Homo sapiens: one gene and its partner. The protein of the gene in region 2 interacts with the protein of the main gene of each other region in a pairwise test. Each region holds a gene or a part of one and is shown on either strand. Other genes may lie near its edges. The genes, in order: CMTM5 and TMF1.

Region 1 (8,855 bases), on a different chromosome or scaffold from region 2:
TGGGAGGGTGGACCCGCAGTGGAGGGAAGAGTTGGCCATTCTTTTCTGAGCTACAAGGAGGCTCAGTACAGTATCCAGAACACTCGCTTAGGTGTCAGAAGAGCTGCGTTCTGGCCCTAGCTCTGTCACAAATGAGTTCACCTCCCCTGGCTGGGCCTGTTTTCTCTTATGTGAAATGAGGGCATTGGACCAGCTGATAATCAACGGCTCTCCCAGCATTCGCATTTTGGGAAATCTCTCCCTCCTCTGATACCTCAGGCTGCCCTCTCCCTGCGTCCTGTGGGCCAAGTCTTCCCCACACCACAAGGGGGAGCTCTGCACACGCCCCAGGCGAGCGCCTGGCCTCCAGCCCACTAACCTGCGGGAACAGGTGTGGTGGTGCATGCATGCTCCCATGAGGAAGGCTGTGCCTTCTCAGACACAGAACTCCAGATGCCCAGCCACCAGGCACACCACAAAGTGGCCGTGCACACAGAGGTGTAGCGTAGAAGTTTTGTGTTGGAGGATGTCTTCAGCTTCTTCTGGCTAGCCCCCACATCCTCACTGCTCAGACCCAGTCCCAGAGACAGACCACGACCTGCTCTGGCAACATTCCCATGAATACTCCTTGACATTCCTGACCTGCCTAATTTCTGGGGAAGAAAGAGACTCACCAGTAGAATTTGAATATTTTAATTTGGGAATGACTTAGAGGTCCAGATTCCTCCCCTCCACCCCCCCTCCCCCAATAAGTTCCCCTCCTCTGGCCAGAGCTTCATGAGAAGCCACATCCTGGAGCACCAGGCTCCACAGATAAGTCCCCAGTGACGTCTCAGGCCAGACTGCTGTGTAGGGCTGGGGTGGGGTTTGGCGGGCTGGGGGCTAGTGAATCCCAAGGAGACGTGTCTGGGCTCCACTGTCCTCTCTGGCTGGCTGGGCCTAGGAGCCAGGTAGCCCCAGAGTCACTGCTGGTCCCCTGTGAGGATAGAGCCAGGTAGGGACCCACATCAGGATGGGTAGCTAGGGTGGGGAGGGCATCTCCTCTCCACAGAGCACAGGCACTCACCCTGGCTGGCCCCGGGTGCCATCTCAGTCCGGTAGATCTTGAAGGCATCATAGGCAAAGATGGAAACCAGGATGATGCCAAAAACCTGTGGGAGTGGGAGTGGGGATGGCAAAACAGAGGCTATAGGGCCATTGGGTTAAGGTATAGGGTGAGGTGCAAGCCAGAACCCCAAGTCCTGGCTGTGGCTTCTGATACAGAAAGTGTGCAAGCACCAGCCTGAGCTCTTGAGGGGCTAAGGAGTCCTGCAGGGCTGAACTCACAAAAGCAGCAATGGCAGCTCCGTCCCGGGAGGTCACAGCTGCAAAGGAGACCACCAGGAAGATGATGATGGCACTGACACAGCGCAGGAAGTCCTGGGGGCCAGGGGTGCAGGGTTAACAGGACCTCAGAAGGCAGGGGGCGTTACCCTGAAGTTTTCCAGGCTAGCCAGCAGCCCGACCCTGAGGGATTCTGAACCCCTCCATAGGATACCCCTCACACAATATGAAGCACATTCAAGAGACAGAGCGCTCACACTGCTACCCAGGGAGTGGAAGCAGATGAACCAGAGCAACCAGGACCAGAAGCCAGGCGCTGGGGCTGGAACCCAGGGGACAGCGGCTGGAGTATGCCAGCCCGGGGGGGTCAAGCCAGGCCAGGGCTGGGGCTGGACCTTTGCTGAGTGGGAGAGTAGATCTAGCGGATGTGGTCCTCCTGATTGCCCGTGGCCCTGCAGCTGTGAAATCAGTGTGAGTCAAAGCACACCTTTGAGTGCAGGGCATAGCATGGGACAAAGCCCAGCTGTGGTGTGGAAATGGAAAGAAGCTCGGGGAGGAAAGGAAAATGCATCATTTAGAGGAGAGGGAAGGGCCCCAAACTGGGCTAGGGGTCAGGGTTCCTCACCAGACAGGGCCAGTTAATTCGGTCGAAGCGCTGGTAGTACTGGGTGGCATAGAGGAAGAGGAAGGCAAGTGTGATGAAGAACTCCAGTAGCGCCGCGGCCATGTAGGCAGAGATGGAGGCCGTGAAGCAGATGAAGATGATGAGGGTCAGGGCCTGCAGGACCGAGCATGTGGAACATGCCAAGAAGGGGACACAGGCAGGGGCCAGGGCTTTGCCTTCCCCTCCTTGGAAGCTCCCCTAGGCTGGCACCTACTACCTGTCCTTGGAGGGGAGGAAGGACTCTGGCACATCTCCCTATCCCCTGGTGTCAGGAGCCACCGTTGCAGGGCATTTGCCGGTCAAGGGCAGTCTCCGGCCTCCCACTCTGCTCACCCAGCAACCCCAGCAGTCTGGCCAAGCCATATGGCTCCCAGGAGCACTATCCCACAGTAATTCATAGGTACAGTGTGAATGCCAGCCCCTGGAGTTGTGCCCACAGAGACCCGACTCCACAGGGACCAAGAGGAGCCCCCTGCCTCATAATGCTTTCCCCACCCCCAGATGCCTGAAAGCCCCCTGACAAGGACCAGAGCCTTTGATTCCATGCCAAGAGAGAAGGCAGATGCTGCCCAGTGGTTTCTGGGAGCCCCTTTAGCTCTGATGACCTAGGGTGGCATACGTGCAGAGGCCTTAACTCTACACTGTGGTCTTGCTAAGTAACCAGGGGAAGATCCTTTCCTGAGAAGAGATGTTTCTGGGCAGCAGACCACAGATAAAGTGCAGTTGCAGGAAGTCTGCCCTTTTTGATAGTTAGACTTCTTGGACGTGCTGAGAAGTGGCCATGTTAGAGGCTGTCATTGCCCCTGTCCCATCCCTATGTCTCAAGCTTCCTCAATGTCCCAAAAAGTCACCCTGTCTAACTGCAGTCCTTCCTGCTGCAACTGAAACCTGCTGTAAATGTCTCCGGGTGGAGAGGCAGCAAGAAGGCAGAGTAGGAGACGAAGAAGGGGCAGCTGCGGGCAGGAGAGGTGTCCAGAGGGCTTGGGGAAGGAGGCTACTGAAGGGTGAGCTGGGGGCTGGCATAAGGCTGGCCAGGAGCCGGGGGTCAGGGAGATGGAGGCACCAGGTTGGGAGGCAGCTGTTACCAGCTCGGTTTCCAGCAGGATGCCCTTGTGGGAGGTGAGGAAGGCCTTGTCCACCGCGAAGCCCTGGAGCTCTGCAACTACCCCCTCCTCAGGGTGCCGGTCCCGGCGATCTCGAGCACTGAGCATCTTCGTAGGGCCCACCAACACAGCCCCCTACTGCCAAAAGCCCAGCAAGAGAAACAGAAATCTGGCAGGATGGGGAAACAGACAGGAGCAAGAAGGCACTTCGAGAAACCTGAAAGTGAAGCAGGAGGCTTGCCCACAGGGCCCCGGGAGAGAAGGCAGGCGCTGGGGGCCTTGCCCAGATGGGCCCTCACCCAGCTGCCCAGAGTGCCTCTGCTGCTGCCTGCACCAGCCCCCTAGAGACCCATGGGGAGGGGCAGAGAGGAAGGAGGCTCTAATCCCTCCCCTTGCTTAGAGCCCAACCCAGCCTGGAATAGAGAAGGAAGGGGAGAGGAGGAGGTCCGAAAAGAAACTGGGAGGAGCTGGGATGTGAGTAGAGGAACAGGGGCAGGACTGGGAGCCCCCAGGGACCTAAGCCTGAAGACATTTGTGTCCCCCTTCTCTAACCTTAACCCTCTTGTTTGGCCGGTCCTTTCTCCCATTTCCTTTTAGGGAGGGTGTGAGCTGGAGCCCAGCCCAGGCAGCACCCCCAGGACCAAGCTGCAGCAGCCAGGACTGGAGGACAAAGGCGGATTGTTGGGGGACAAGGGGGCGCTCTGTGCCTGCTGCAATGCCTCAATGGGCCTCTGTCTCTCCAGCATGCCGGGAGCGCGGCCTAGCCCCCACCCTGGTGTTTGGGATGGGCCAGGGAGACAGAGATGGGAGAGGACGGGAGGGTGCAGCGGAAACTCTGGAGGGCGGAGAGAGCTGGCAGGGTGGACAGAGGTGAGGGCCAATGGTGGAAAGGAGAAGGGACAGGCTGGGAGACCGCGAGATGTTCAGGCACCACGGATGCCAAATACAGATTAGGCCATTTTTAAATAAAGATATTTATTTGGATAAATCTCTATACATTCAATAACAGCTTCCTCCTCAGAATCATCCATGTCAAAAGACTAGTAACTACACTAGAATGCACCCAAAGTAGATGCTCACTGAGTGATGAGTAAACAAACAAATAAAACCAGGGGCTCTTTCTTCTCCAGCAAGGGGGAAATATCTAGAAAGTGCCTGTGCTGGGCCAGGGTAGCAGGGGATGGGAAAAGAGGAAGAGACAGGAGTGGTGGCCTCCAGAAATGGGCAGAACTTTGAAAACCTTTCCTGAGAGAAAATGACAGGACACCAGCTTCCGGCGGCCCTAAGCAGCAGCTGCTCTTTTCAAAATGTGCAGAAGTGCAGGCTTTCCCCAAAGCCCCCCATCCTGTCCCGGGATCCTGCTGCTCCAGACAGCACTTCACAGGGGCCAAGCATCTGGGCATCCTGGCCCTTCATGGCAAGTGGTTGTACACCTGGCTCCAGGTTTCCCAAAAAGGGACCAGCCTCCAGCAGGTCCGGCTAGCCCATCACACGGGGCCGCACACACACACAAGCTAAGGAAACACGGTACAGCCTGCGCTCCAGGCAGTAGCCCTTGTGGGTGCCCTTCTCGCCATGGCATGGCCGCCGGTAGAAGACAGTCTGGTTGTGGTAGAGCAGCTCCGAGTTGCCCCGGGGGTCCATGTGGGAGCCTGTCTGTAGGCTGACGCAGTGCGGGCACAGGCAACGGGCGTGGTACAGGTCCTGGGGGAGCCGGTTCAAGTCTCTGTCCAACCTGTGGGGGCGGCACTTGTCAGGCCTTGGAAAGATGGGCCGGAAACAGAGAGGGTGGGGTGGCATGGGAGTGCCAGAAGAAGGAAATGGTCCGTCTGGGGCCTTGGCCTCTTGTCTCAGTTCTGAACCCACTTGCTGTGTAACTTTGAACAAGTCACCTCCCTCCTTTATTAAATTTTCCCCACTGTAAATGAGGGTAGCAGGTGACAGAGTGCTTTCCAACTGGTCCTGGGACCGTGAGGGAGGCAGGGGAGGGTGAGCAGGCTCCTGCCTTAGCCTCCATTGACCAGCACTGCTTCTATCTGACTCAGCATGAGGTTTCTTATTGTAATGATTACACTTTAGGTGTTTTTGTTTGTTTTTTGATTTTTTGTTTTTGTTTTTTTGAGACGGAGTACCCAAGCTGGAGTGCAGTGGCACGATCTTGGCTCAACTGCAACCTCTACCTCCTGGGTTCGAGCGATTCTCCTGATGCCCGCCACCATACCCAGCTAATTTTCATATTTTTAGTAGAGATGGGGTTTCATGATGTTGGCCATGGTTGGCCAGGCTGGTCTTGAACTCCTGACCTTAGGTAATCCACCCACCTCGACCTCCCAAAGTGCTGGGATTACAGGCATGAGCCACCGGGCCGGACTTTAGGTGGTGTTTCTATTATTATTATAGCATTATTGCAAAAGTAAAAACCACTCTGACATCCAAGTATTAAAGAGTATAAAGAGTGAAAGTTAATAGTCTCTCCCTACCAGCCCCACTCCCCAGAAGAAGCTATCCTCAACTATTTCCTGCACATTCTTCCAGACGCTGTGCAAGCTTATATTATAAGCATACTTGAGAGTGCATGGGAAGACTTATTTACTTATTCTGAAAGGATTTCATGGCAAAAAAAAAAAAAGAAAGAAAGAAAGAAAGATGAAAAACACTGAAAAGTAGATGTCCCACAGGTCTGCGACTCCATTAGTCTGGCAGGCGACAGTCTCCAGCTTGTGGGACCATTCCCCACACAGACAAGCCCTGGCAAATGGAATTAGCTAGCACATCACTTCCCAAAGTGGGTTCCCTAATAAATCACCTGCACCTGTTGGGTGCTTAAATGAATTTGGGAAACACCAGTTTAACGGTTTACTTTCTACAGACTTCTTGCAGACTTTAATGTACAATGACAGTATGAATCTCCAAGGGGTAGGAGATACAGCAGTCTTTCCCAAGTTTACCTGGCATCACTTTTTTCTGAGAAGCAGCTCATGGGATGAGCATTGCACAGAACACACTTTGGGGAAAGCCACCTGAGTGGTTCTCGGGTTCACAGACTCCCAGCAAGGGGTCTGGAAGACAGCTGAGTTAACCTCTGGCACCCGCCTCCCCTAAGAAGCTCCCATGCCATCTGATTTGGCCCAGGACCCAGCCAGCTTCTGAGACCACTCCAAAGAGTCATGACCTGTAGTGTCCACACTAGATCCAATCTCAGTTAGATCTGACCCCCTCCCCACCACTGAACTTCTCCATCTACCCCCAAAGCCAATGCTAAGACAGAACTAGAAGGAAGAAGTGAAATCACATGTCTGGAATCCCTAAGACCCTAGTTTTTAATATTTTGCTTCATCATTCATATTTCAGCACTTCCTAATATTTTTCATATCATGGCACAAATAGAGAACTATAATATTTATGTGGCACACTGAGTGAAAGAATACAGTACCCATGATCATGATCAAAGATATCCAGTCCACAGCTCCAGCCAGCCAGCTGCCCCCAAAAGTTAAGGGTTTCACTCCTTTAGTATGCTTATAACTAACCCATTCATGGCCAGGGCAGTATCAATTGGTATTGGGATGCTTCATGCCTGTATCATGCCATTATTCCCTAATATTTTACCCAGAAAAAACATGGGCCATTATAGGGATGTTTTAAAAGAAAAGGAGAGAACCAACATAAATACAGACTTTTACATACATTATATTTCATTTGATCTGCACATTAGCCTATGGGGCATTATATCATTTTGCAGGTGAAAAAAAAAAAAACCCTGAGTTTTGAAAACTTGAATTGACTCAAGATCATCCAATGAGAGTCAGAGCTAGGACTCAAATACAGACCTTGTCTAACTCCCAAACCTTTACAGCCCCTCTGAGATCAAAATGGGAAAGTAAGCTGGAATTGCCCTGGTCCCTCACGCATACCCTGGCCAGCACACACAGGGCAGGCATTCGGGAGGGGCAGCAGACTCACTCATATCTCCAGGGGGAGATGGCCCTGCTGTTGAGGGGTCCATCTTCACTGGCCCTACAGGACTCTGGGTGGCGGTTGGGCCTAGCAGGCTCTAGGGGAGGCACAGGCACAGTGCTCCACCTCAGCAGCTCCTCAGAGGTGTCCTGCCCTTTGCTGGGGCAGCAGCTGGGCCAGTGGCTGTAGGTGTGGGTTCCCATGACCATTGCCAAGAATGCAACCACCTGTAGGAAAAGGCTAATGAGAGAACTGTCCTCACCTAATCTGGGTCGCTCCCTCATCTGCACCCTCCCCCTGGGATCCCAGTTTCTCACTCCACTTGGCCCCCAGCCCCAAACCTGGCAGCTTGGCCTCCCTCCACCCTCAGCAGCATCTCTGCTCCTCTCCCTCTCAGCACAGCCCTCAGGCAGCCCTCTGCACTGACCTGGTACATGCTGGGCACTGCACACTCAGTCACAAGTGGGGCACTGACTGACAGGCCTCGTGGAAGCAGGCTGACTGGAGCAGGTTAGGAGTCCTGATTTTATTTTCAGCAAGCCTGTTTTGTTTATTCAAATTTATTTCCACTGTCTTTTTAGGGAGTGACTTGAGGTTAAAAAACAAAACCAAAAAAACTCTGAAAGTATTTCCAAAGGCTGCTTAAAATGCAATACTCATGGAAGTTGTGATGACCATCATTATATGCCTGGTAGCTGATTGGGTAAACTTTGCTCTTTGAATTTTTCTGGCCATGGGGTCAAAGCAATAACAGTCTGCTGTTCTGCATTCTTGTGAACTGGCATTAGCGGGATTTCCCTGGTTGGTTTGGTAGCCAAAATTAGGAAATGTCTTGTGGCCTCCCTTCAAGAGGCCTCGTTTCCATGATCCCTGCTCCCCCCATCCAGGGTCTGGTTTCACCATTCCCCTCTTCCCAGGTGTCCCTCTGATCATCCACCTTCGTGATTATTTCCTTTCCCTTAGACATCCTTTGACTCCCATCCCCTTTGTTCTCTGACCTCTTCCACATTTTCAATGACCCCAAAATTCTATGACCCCCATCAGCTATGACTTCTCCCCCATTGTCCATGACCCACTCCCTAACTCCCCCTTGCCCTCGCCAGTCACTGCCCCCCACCGGGGATACAAGCCTACCCTCACAGGGCTGCTGGAAGACCCTGACTTCCTAAGTTTGTTGGCTGGATGGGCAAGGTCTGATGGAAGAAGCTGTGGGTGAGTGTCCCCATTGCACAAATGAGAAGGTGAAGCAAGGAAGAGGAGGGAAACTGAAACAGCCTCACCTAAGACCCAACAGGAAGGAGGTCTCAGTTCCAGGAACCAACCTGCTCTCATTCACAGAGCCTTGGGGACCAAGCCCATGACAGGGTCAGCTACTGCTTTCAGGCCATGAAGTGAGCCCACTCAGCCTCAGCAGGTCCAGAAACATGGGCCACTGTTAGCCAGGAGGGTGTATGTGTGCCCCAGAAAGGCTTACAGTTGGGCTTGACCCCAAAGACACAGGTCAGCCGGGTCCAGCCTGCTTGGGAGACACTGTGCTGAGAGTGGGCCAGTGTGTCCTTCCCCCCAGGTCCTTCTCTTCATGCTTGCCTATTGGCCTGCCTCATCCCCCATACGCACCCAACATACCCATACACAGACATTGCCCCTAGAATGATGTGGCTTGATTTGCATGTGCTTTCCCTTAGAAAATACTCCTCTAGTAACCAAGGACTAGGAAATCAACAAAGGGAACCAGGAATAACTTAAACTGCAGTGAGAGGAATCTTTCCAATGCGTTAGGGCAAAGCAGCCCCAAAAGAGAGAAGTGATGAAGTCAAAGGGCAATCTGG
Region 2 (7,863 bases):
CTAATAATGATAAAAAGCATTTAATGGCATAGAGAGATGTAAGAGAAGGAAGATTGGAAATTAAATATATGATCTTAAATATGTTTAAAAATGCATTAAAAAATACATTAAAACTAGAAAAAATTAATAGTTCCTTATAATATTGGATTATAATCTACTTTTCCTCTTTATTCATATACTTTCCTATAACTTCAAAACTTTCTACAAGTAGCAAGTATTACTCTTATAACTACAAAAACTTTAATTAACAAGAGAAATAAAAAGAGAGATTCACTTGACCACGTTTTCCAAAGGCTCCTCTCTCCCAGGATATTACATGAAGAAATTAATTCAGTATCCATTTGTAATGATTTATTTCATGAATAGATCTTTAATTTCTGTAATGCTATTAATTTTATTTTATTTATTTATTTTTTTGAGACAAAGTCTCACTCTGTCGCCCAGGCTGCAGTACAGTGGCGTGATCTTGGCTCACTGCAACCTCCACCTCCCAGGCTCAAGCAATCCTCCTGCCTCAGCCTCCTGAGTAGCTGGGATTAGAGGCACGCACCACCACCACCCGGCTAATTTTTGTATTTTTAGTAGAGACGGGGTTTCACCATGTTGGCCAGGCTTGTCTCGAACTCCTGACCTTAAATGATCCACCCACCTCTGCCTCCCCAAGTGCTGAGATTACAGTCATAAGCCACCACACTCAGCCAACCCTGTTTATTTTAAATCTTTTCAGAGACAAAAGTGCTTAATAATTTAAAAATTAATACAATGAAAAATTCACTATCAAATGTCAGAAAAAGACAATATCATACAGTACTTAAGCTAGGTATTCAGATATTACATAAATCCCAGAGTTACACACTTTGAATGTCTTGGTTTAAATGACAGGCTCTTAAGACCTGTTTAAAGTTTTCTTAGGGCAGCACAAATTTCTGTCTATTTTACAGGGACTTACTTTTCTTTTTACTTCCAAAAAACAAAAGCTAGAAACACGTATCTCTGTCTCAATATATCTTATTCCTCATTCTTCCATAAACTGTCACCTATTTCTATGGTTTACGTCCAAACCCTCCTTGCTTTCAGTATTTTTAATTAGGAAGCATCAGCTAGTTATGTGGCAAGTACTTTTCCTGTTCTTACAGTATTTTTCATAGTCAACCAAATACTATACGCACCTTCTTCCATTAACCCTCGGATCTGCTCATCTTTCTCTTTCAAAAGGTCTGCAGTTTCACTACTATTTAATCTAGTGGCAAGTTCTTCTTTTATGTTTTTGATTTCCTAATAAAAAAGAAATCTGTGAATACCGTAAAGAATGACTTTCACTCTAAGTACAGTTCTCATTTCTCCCCCATCCAAAGAAGCTGTCCATAATCACATTTGCAATAAGAATCTGTAAGTTTTGTTCAGTTAATCTACTACCTTGGTTAACTAAGACTAAGAAAACAACTTTGAAAATGATATTCAAAACCTAAATTCAGATATACAAGCAAGTGTTAATATGAAAATATAAATGAGAATAAATTAACTTTCCTTTTCATTTTTATTTTTATTTTTTGAGACAGGGTCTTACTCTGTCACCCAGGCTGGAGTAGTGGTACAATGACGACTCACCACAGCCTCAACCTCCCAGGCTCAGGTGATCCTCCCACCTCAGCTTCCCGAGTAGTTGGGACCACACGCATGTACCACCATGGCCAGCTAATCTTTGTATTTTTTGTAGAGATGAGGTCTCGCCATGTTGCCCAGGCTGGTCTTGAACTCCTGGGCTCAAGCGATCCACCCTCTTCGGCCTCCTGAGTAGCTGTGACCACAGGCGCACACCAGCATGACCAGCTAACTTTATGTATTTTTTAGTAGAGGCAGGGTCTCACCATGTTACCCAGGCTGCTCTCTAACTCCTGGGCTCAAGTGATCCGCCCACTTCAGCCTCCCAGTGTGCTGGGATTATAGACATGAGCCACCACACGTGGCCAAAAATCTACAATTTAAATGTTAATAGATGATATCCTTTTCACCTTACTTCTCTTTTTTCCAATATCAAAATACGATGAATGCACTCCTCAAAAATCTATATCTCTATAGAGTTTAATTAATATTACTTTAAATTTCAATTACCTTTTTAGCAGCATCTCTCTCTTTGCAGGCTAGTTGAACTTTCTTTTCTGCTTCTGCAATTCTTTGAGTAAACTCATCTTTCAAGGAAGAAATGCTACTGCTTTCTTCTTTCACTCTGAACATTTCACTAAATTTAAAATAATATTTGAGAATGAGGATGGTGTCTATATATCCCAAAGGTATACATGAGTTCAATTCTCAAAAGGAAGATAACTTTTCTCTGACATATACCTTATTAAAATAGAACAGTTTTAGGCCTATTAACTTTTAAGAAAAAAAAAGGAAATTTCCCTTGTTAAATTTATTTTAAAACACCTCAAAGAAAATCTGTTAGAAAGAGAAAATGTCACCAATATCTGACATGTAAAAATAAGAGAAGAGTAAATACAATGTTTCAATTCTGAATCTTCTTGTATCACATTTTCCCAATCAGCTCCTTATAGCACAACTGTGTTATTGATTAACACAGTTTTCTTCAAATACGTTTTAAATCTCTAATACTAAAAGACTAAAAACGAAAGGAAAGAGTTTTCCAGTTTTGCAAAATGACTCTCTTCAATGGCAAAGGGTAAAGACAATCAAAAGAGAAAAGTAATCTTTAGGGTTATAATTGAAAGCTATACAACTTTCAATAATGATAAAATTACAAAACATTTTAATTTCAAAAACATTCTTAAATATGTACAAAGTATACAGGTTTCCAGAAAATGTGTAACATTATTCACATTTGCAGAATACTTACTCTTTCAGGTTATCAAAAGCTTCTTCTAGAAGTGCTTTTTCCTTACTAAGAGATAATAACTGAGCCTCCCTTTTTTCCAGCTTTTCATTCAGAAATTCAACTGTCTGGATAAGGCGAATACATAAAAGTCAGAACGCTTAGCTTTAAAAAAGACCATTTTTACATGCAGGTGTATCACTGTAACAAAGAAAACAGCTTTATCTCATAAAAACAATCAAGAACAGTATTAGGAACACAGAAGATCCAGAACAAGAAGAACTCTTAGGCAGCTGAGAGGAGAGTAAAAGTAAATACAACCAAATAGCTAGTGGGAGTGTAAGTTGAGAAACCCCTTGAGAAAACAATTAGGCAATATCTAGTTGGGGATCTACATACTCTTTGATATAGAAAATTTCACTTTTAGGTATACCTTAGAGGAGAAAATTCTTGCATAAATGCACTAGGCGACATGTATAAGAATACTTTATGTAGCTTCCTGGTAATAGCAAAAATCTGGAATAATCTGCATACACACCAAAAGAAGAAGGGAGATGGATGCAATCAAAAGAGGTCAAAGAGGAAATTTAAAGCCTCTATATTTTAGCTAGGTGGTGGATACACAAGTGTCTATTTTCTGTATTATTCTTTACCCGAAACACATACCCTTTTTAAAATATGACATATTGCATTTAAAAAATAAAAGTAGGCCAGGCGCAGTGGCTCATGCCTGTAATCCCAGCACTTTGGGAGGCTGAGGTGGGGGGATCACCTGAGGTCAGGAATTTGAGAGCAGCCTGGCCAACACGGTGAAAACCAGTCTCTACTGAAAATACAAAAATTAGCTGGGCATGGTGGCAGGCACCTGTAATCCCAGCTACTCAGGAGGCTGAGGCTGGAGAATCGCTTGAACCCAGGAGGTGGAGGTTGCAGTGAGCCAAGATTCTGCAATGATCTTGCACTCCAGCCTGGGTGACAAGAGTGAAACTCCATCTCAAAAAGTAAAAATAAATAAATAAATAAAAGTAGAGGCCGGGCATGGTGGCTCATGCCTGTAATCCCAGCACTTTGGTAGGCTGAGGAGGGCAGATCACTTGAGGTCAGGAGTTCAAGACCAGCCTGACCAACACGGTGAAACCCCATCTCTACAAAAAATACAAAAATTAGCCAGGCATGGTAGCATACGTCTGTAGTCCCAGCTACTTGGGAGGCTGAGGCAGAAGAATCACTTGAACCTGGGAGGCAGACTAGCCTGGGCAACAGGGCAAGACTCCGCCTCAAAAAATAAATAAATAAAATAAAATAAAAGTAGGGCTGGACACGGGTTCATGCTTATAATCCCAGCACTGTGGGAGGCCAAGATGGGAAGACCGCTTGAGCCCAGGAGTTCAAGACCAGCCTGGCAGCATAGTGAGACCTCATCTCTACTAAAAATCAAAAAAATAGCCAGGCGTGGTGCGAGCCTATGGTCCCAGCTACTAGAGCGGATTAGGTGGGAGGACTGCTTGAGCCCAGGAGGTCAAGGCTGCCGTGAGCCATGATCGCACCACTGCACACCAGCCTGAGCAACAAAGAGAGACCCTGTGAGCCGCGATCGCACCACTGCACGCTAGCCTGGACAATAGAGAGAGACCCTGTCTCATTCATACATACATCCATCCACACTAAAAGTAATTTTAGAAAACCCATAAGAATTTTTAAATCTCCATAATGTATCAGTATAAAGCTAAACAAAAAGTAATGCTTGGAATGTCTAATTCCTTAGGTCCTACTCAAATGGTGATAAACTTGAGTATAAAAGGAGTAGGAAGGGTTCCTTTTTGGACTCAAAAAAATAGTCTTACCTGAGTTTGGTTTAGATGAACTTAGAAATCACTTACCTTCTTAAATACACTGAAATTCAAAAATATCTGATAGTAATTAGTGCTGGTTTCTAAGAATTCAAACTCCTATTATATATCTTACAGTATATAGCTATTACTAATTGAAATATTATTGCACAGCATTTTGTTTGTGAATATTTAACCTGATTAACAGAATCTGGCACTTTTTTAAAAAATTAAGTAATTCAATACATGGCACTTACAGGACATTTCTTCAAGACATCCTACATCTCAGAAGTCTATTAAAGATACCAGATCCAACTAAATTTGTATATCTAAAAGTCACAGTAAAAACCAAAACTAGGACTTAATGTCAAAGAATTTATATCACTTTCCTTTCACATGTATTAGGTAGAAGCAATCTGTCCCTCCTAAGCAATGCTTTTGTTCCTTAGACATTTCTCTTTCTCGTTCATGTGAAATATAGCTATCAATAGGAGATCTCAAAAATAACATAAGCAGAAAACAAACTGAAGCAATATAAGGATATATACTCCTTATATATGAATGAAAATACTAATAACAGAAAAGCACCAATAATTAAAATCTTAAATTATCATTTAATATTTGCTACAAATAATGTAAACATGTAAAAACAAATTCTGATACAAGAAAAACCATAACATTTAGTTTTTTTGGCACATCTATCTGCAAAGGAGGTGAAGATACATGTTAATGTAAGAAAATATTCCTTTCAAATTGACATACTAATAAGCATAACAGAATTTTGAAGTGATAAGGACTCAAAAATAAAGATGTAAGATGAAAACTTTCATGCTTAACTGTATTGAAGTATCAACTTATTCTACCATAATTGCCTTGGAGAAATTCCAAATTATATTAATAATTGTTCAACTTCAAGGTACTTAATGCTACACAGAAATGGCAAAATGCGTATGTTTTTAAATCTGTATAAATTATTATGCATCAATGAAAGTATTTTTTAAAACAAATGATTTAATCTCCAAAAAGCACATCTAAAAATCCCTTCCACTTACTAGAGTTACCTTGCAAACATCTTCCTTCTCAGAAAGTGCTTCTGGCTGACTTTCAGCAGGTTCACACTGCTCAGCCACCTTGTCTAACACAGTCTGTCCTTCATTTATTGGTGTGGAAGAAACCAAGATATCAGGCTGTTCACAGTTAACAGGAGTTGCACTTCGTCCACTTTCTTCCATTTCTGCTTCCTCAGTGGGTATAACTAATGTTTCATTTACTTCTTCAGATTTTCCTTCAGCAGATTCAACTGTTTTAGACTTTGGAGTTGAAGAATTAACTATAATAGGCACTAAAGCATATCCCTTGCCTGACAATTCATCATCTGAATTGATTTCACTTACACTCCGGCTATCTAATGACTGTACACTAAATGAGTCTATTCTTTCAAAAGCATCAGATGAACAGCAACTCTCAGTGAGTTTTTGGAAATCATCTAAACGATTATATTCAGGACAAGCAGATGCAGAGAGAAGCTGAAAAGATGTCTGCATCAAGTGAAGACTTGATTTTGAATCTGTAGTCTCTTGTCTCGAGCTCGCTGAGCTCTCACTTATTACACTTTCATGATCTAAAACTTCAATATCACTGGTGGTAGAAGTACCTGATGAAAAGGTACTAACAGGAGGAGAAGGTGTATTGCTCTGCCTGTCTTCATGTTTTTGTTCCTTAGGTTCCAAAGCTATGTCCTTTGTTTCTGCTGTGAGAGACTGCGTAGACGTATTAGATATACTTTCCATAGTTGTTTTCACATCAATTACACTTTCAGATACTTTCAAACTTACAGTTGGCACCTTCATATCCGATTCTTTATTAACAGTTTCTTCGTGCTTGCCTTCAGTTTTAGGTGATGAAGTACCTGCTGCCAGAGTTTCCCCTGAAACACACAAAGAAGAGTCTTTTACTTGTGATTCAGTTGTTTCAGGAGTTCTTGACTGGCCAATGTGCAAGGATTCATGTAAGCTGCTTTTCACTTCTTCTTCTGGTCGTTGTGATTTTGCTGGAGGTTTTGATACCACTGGACTCTTCTGAATGGTCTGGACATCAGTTGGCGAGAGAAAGGCACTGAAGAAATTTTCAGATTCATCGACCACAGTCCTCCGAACTGGCTTTGTGATTGCTTTAGGAGAGGCTATTGGTGGACTCTGAGGTTCAGTGTTTGATTTCAACCCCCAGGTTGAAGTATCCCATCCTCCACTGACAGGGGAACTTATTCCTTTAACAAAAAAGTAAATATTAAAAAAGAACACATATATGTTACATTAATATTTCAATCATCATTATAAATCAGTATAAATATAAATTTAGAAAAAATACCCTATGAAATACCTGTAATTTGCACCTGCTAAACTCCTTGCTTACTACATCATTAAGTAGTTTCCAAGTTAATACAGGGACTTACGGAAGAAAACTGGTGTGGGTCCACCTGAGAGGAAGGAGGAGCACAGACAAAAGACTGGGCCTGGCCTGGACTACCAGATGCGAGTATGTTATTCCTCCCCACAACAAATTAAGGAAGTAACAGTATATGTTTTATAACCCACAGTAAGTCCAAGATACCTATGATTCATCTCATAATAACACGCTTTACTTATCAATATGAAATAAACTAATATGGAACTAACTGAATAGGTTGGGCCATGTGCAGTCACAGAAAAATGACCCTACCTATTCAGTCAGTTTCATATTAATTTTTACTTGTAATATCAGTAATATAGTTATGAGCTAGACAAAGGGCAACACTCAAAAACTGAACTCAGTGGGTATGGAGGTTCACACCTATAATCCCAACACTAGAAGAGTCATTTGAGTCCAGGAGTTCAAGACAAGCCTGGGCAACATAGTGAGACCCCTGTCCCTACAAAAAAATTTTTTTAATTAGCTGGGCCTGGTGGCCCACATATGTGGTCCCAGCTACTCAGGAGGCTGAGGTGGGAAGATCATCTGAGCCCAGGAGGTGGAAGCTGCAGTGAGCCATGATCAAACCACTGCACTTCAGCCTGGGTGACAGATCGAGAACCTGTCTCGAAAACAAACAAAACAACAAAAGCCTCAAACCAAGATAATGGTGACAAATGTTCTTTCCCGAAGATCATATTAAACTGATGGGAATGGTAAGTTCTAGAGAACAAATTCATTTTCATCCACTTAATC

What was found.
Region 1: the proteins of TMF1 (region 2) and CMTM5 interact in binary tests that used the Homo sapiens proteins (3 or more experiments, as listed by UniProt).

What each region holds. Positions count from the first base shown.
Region 1 is NC_000014.9:23,371,574-23,380,428, reverse strand, and holds CMTM5 (CKLF-like MARVEL transmembrane domain-containing protein 5), read right to left. Parts: upstream 3,384-8,855; 5' UTR 3,178-3,383; coding exon 3,052-3,177; intron 2,081-3,051; coding exon 1,928-2,080; intron 1,761-1,927; coding exon 1,560-1,760; intron 1,399-1,559; coding exon 1,306-1,398; intron 1,131-1,305; coding exon 1,046-1,130; intron 956-1,045; coding exon 942-955; 3' UTR 657-941; downstream 1-656. Other genes in the region: IL25 (interleukin-25 isoform 1 precursor), read right to left, coding at 4,549-4,804, 7,033-7,310.
Region 2 is NC_000003.12:69,041,638-69,049,500, forward strand, and holds part of TMF1 (TATA element modulatory factor), read right to left. Parts: intron 7,399-7,863; exon of another isoform or gene 7,321-7,398; intron 6,926-7,320; coding exon 5,721-6,925; coding exon of another isoform or gene 5,712-5,720; intron 2,959-5,711; coding exon 2,855-2,958; intron 2,240-2,854; coding exon 2,113-2,239; intron 1,276-2,112; coding exon 1,170-1,275; intron 1-1,169. UniProt on the Homo sapiens protein: Potential coactivator of the androgen receptor. Mediates STAT3 degradation. May play critical roles in two RAB6-dependent retrograde transport processes: one from endosomes to the Golgi and the other from the Golgi to the ER.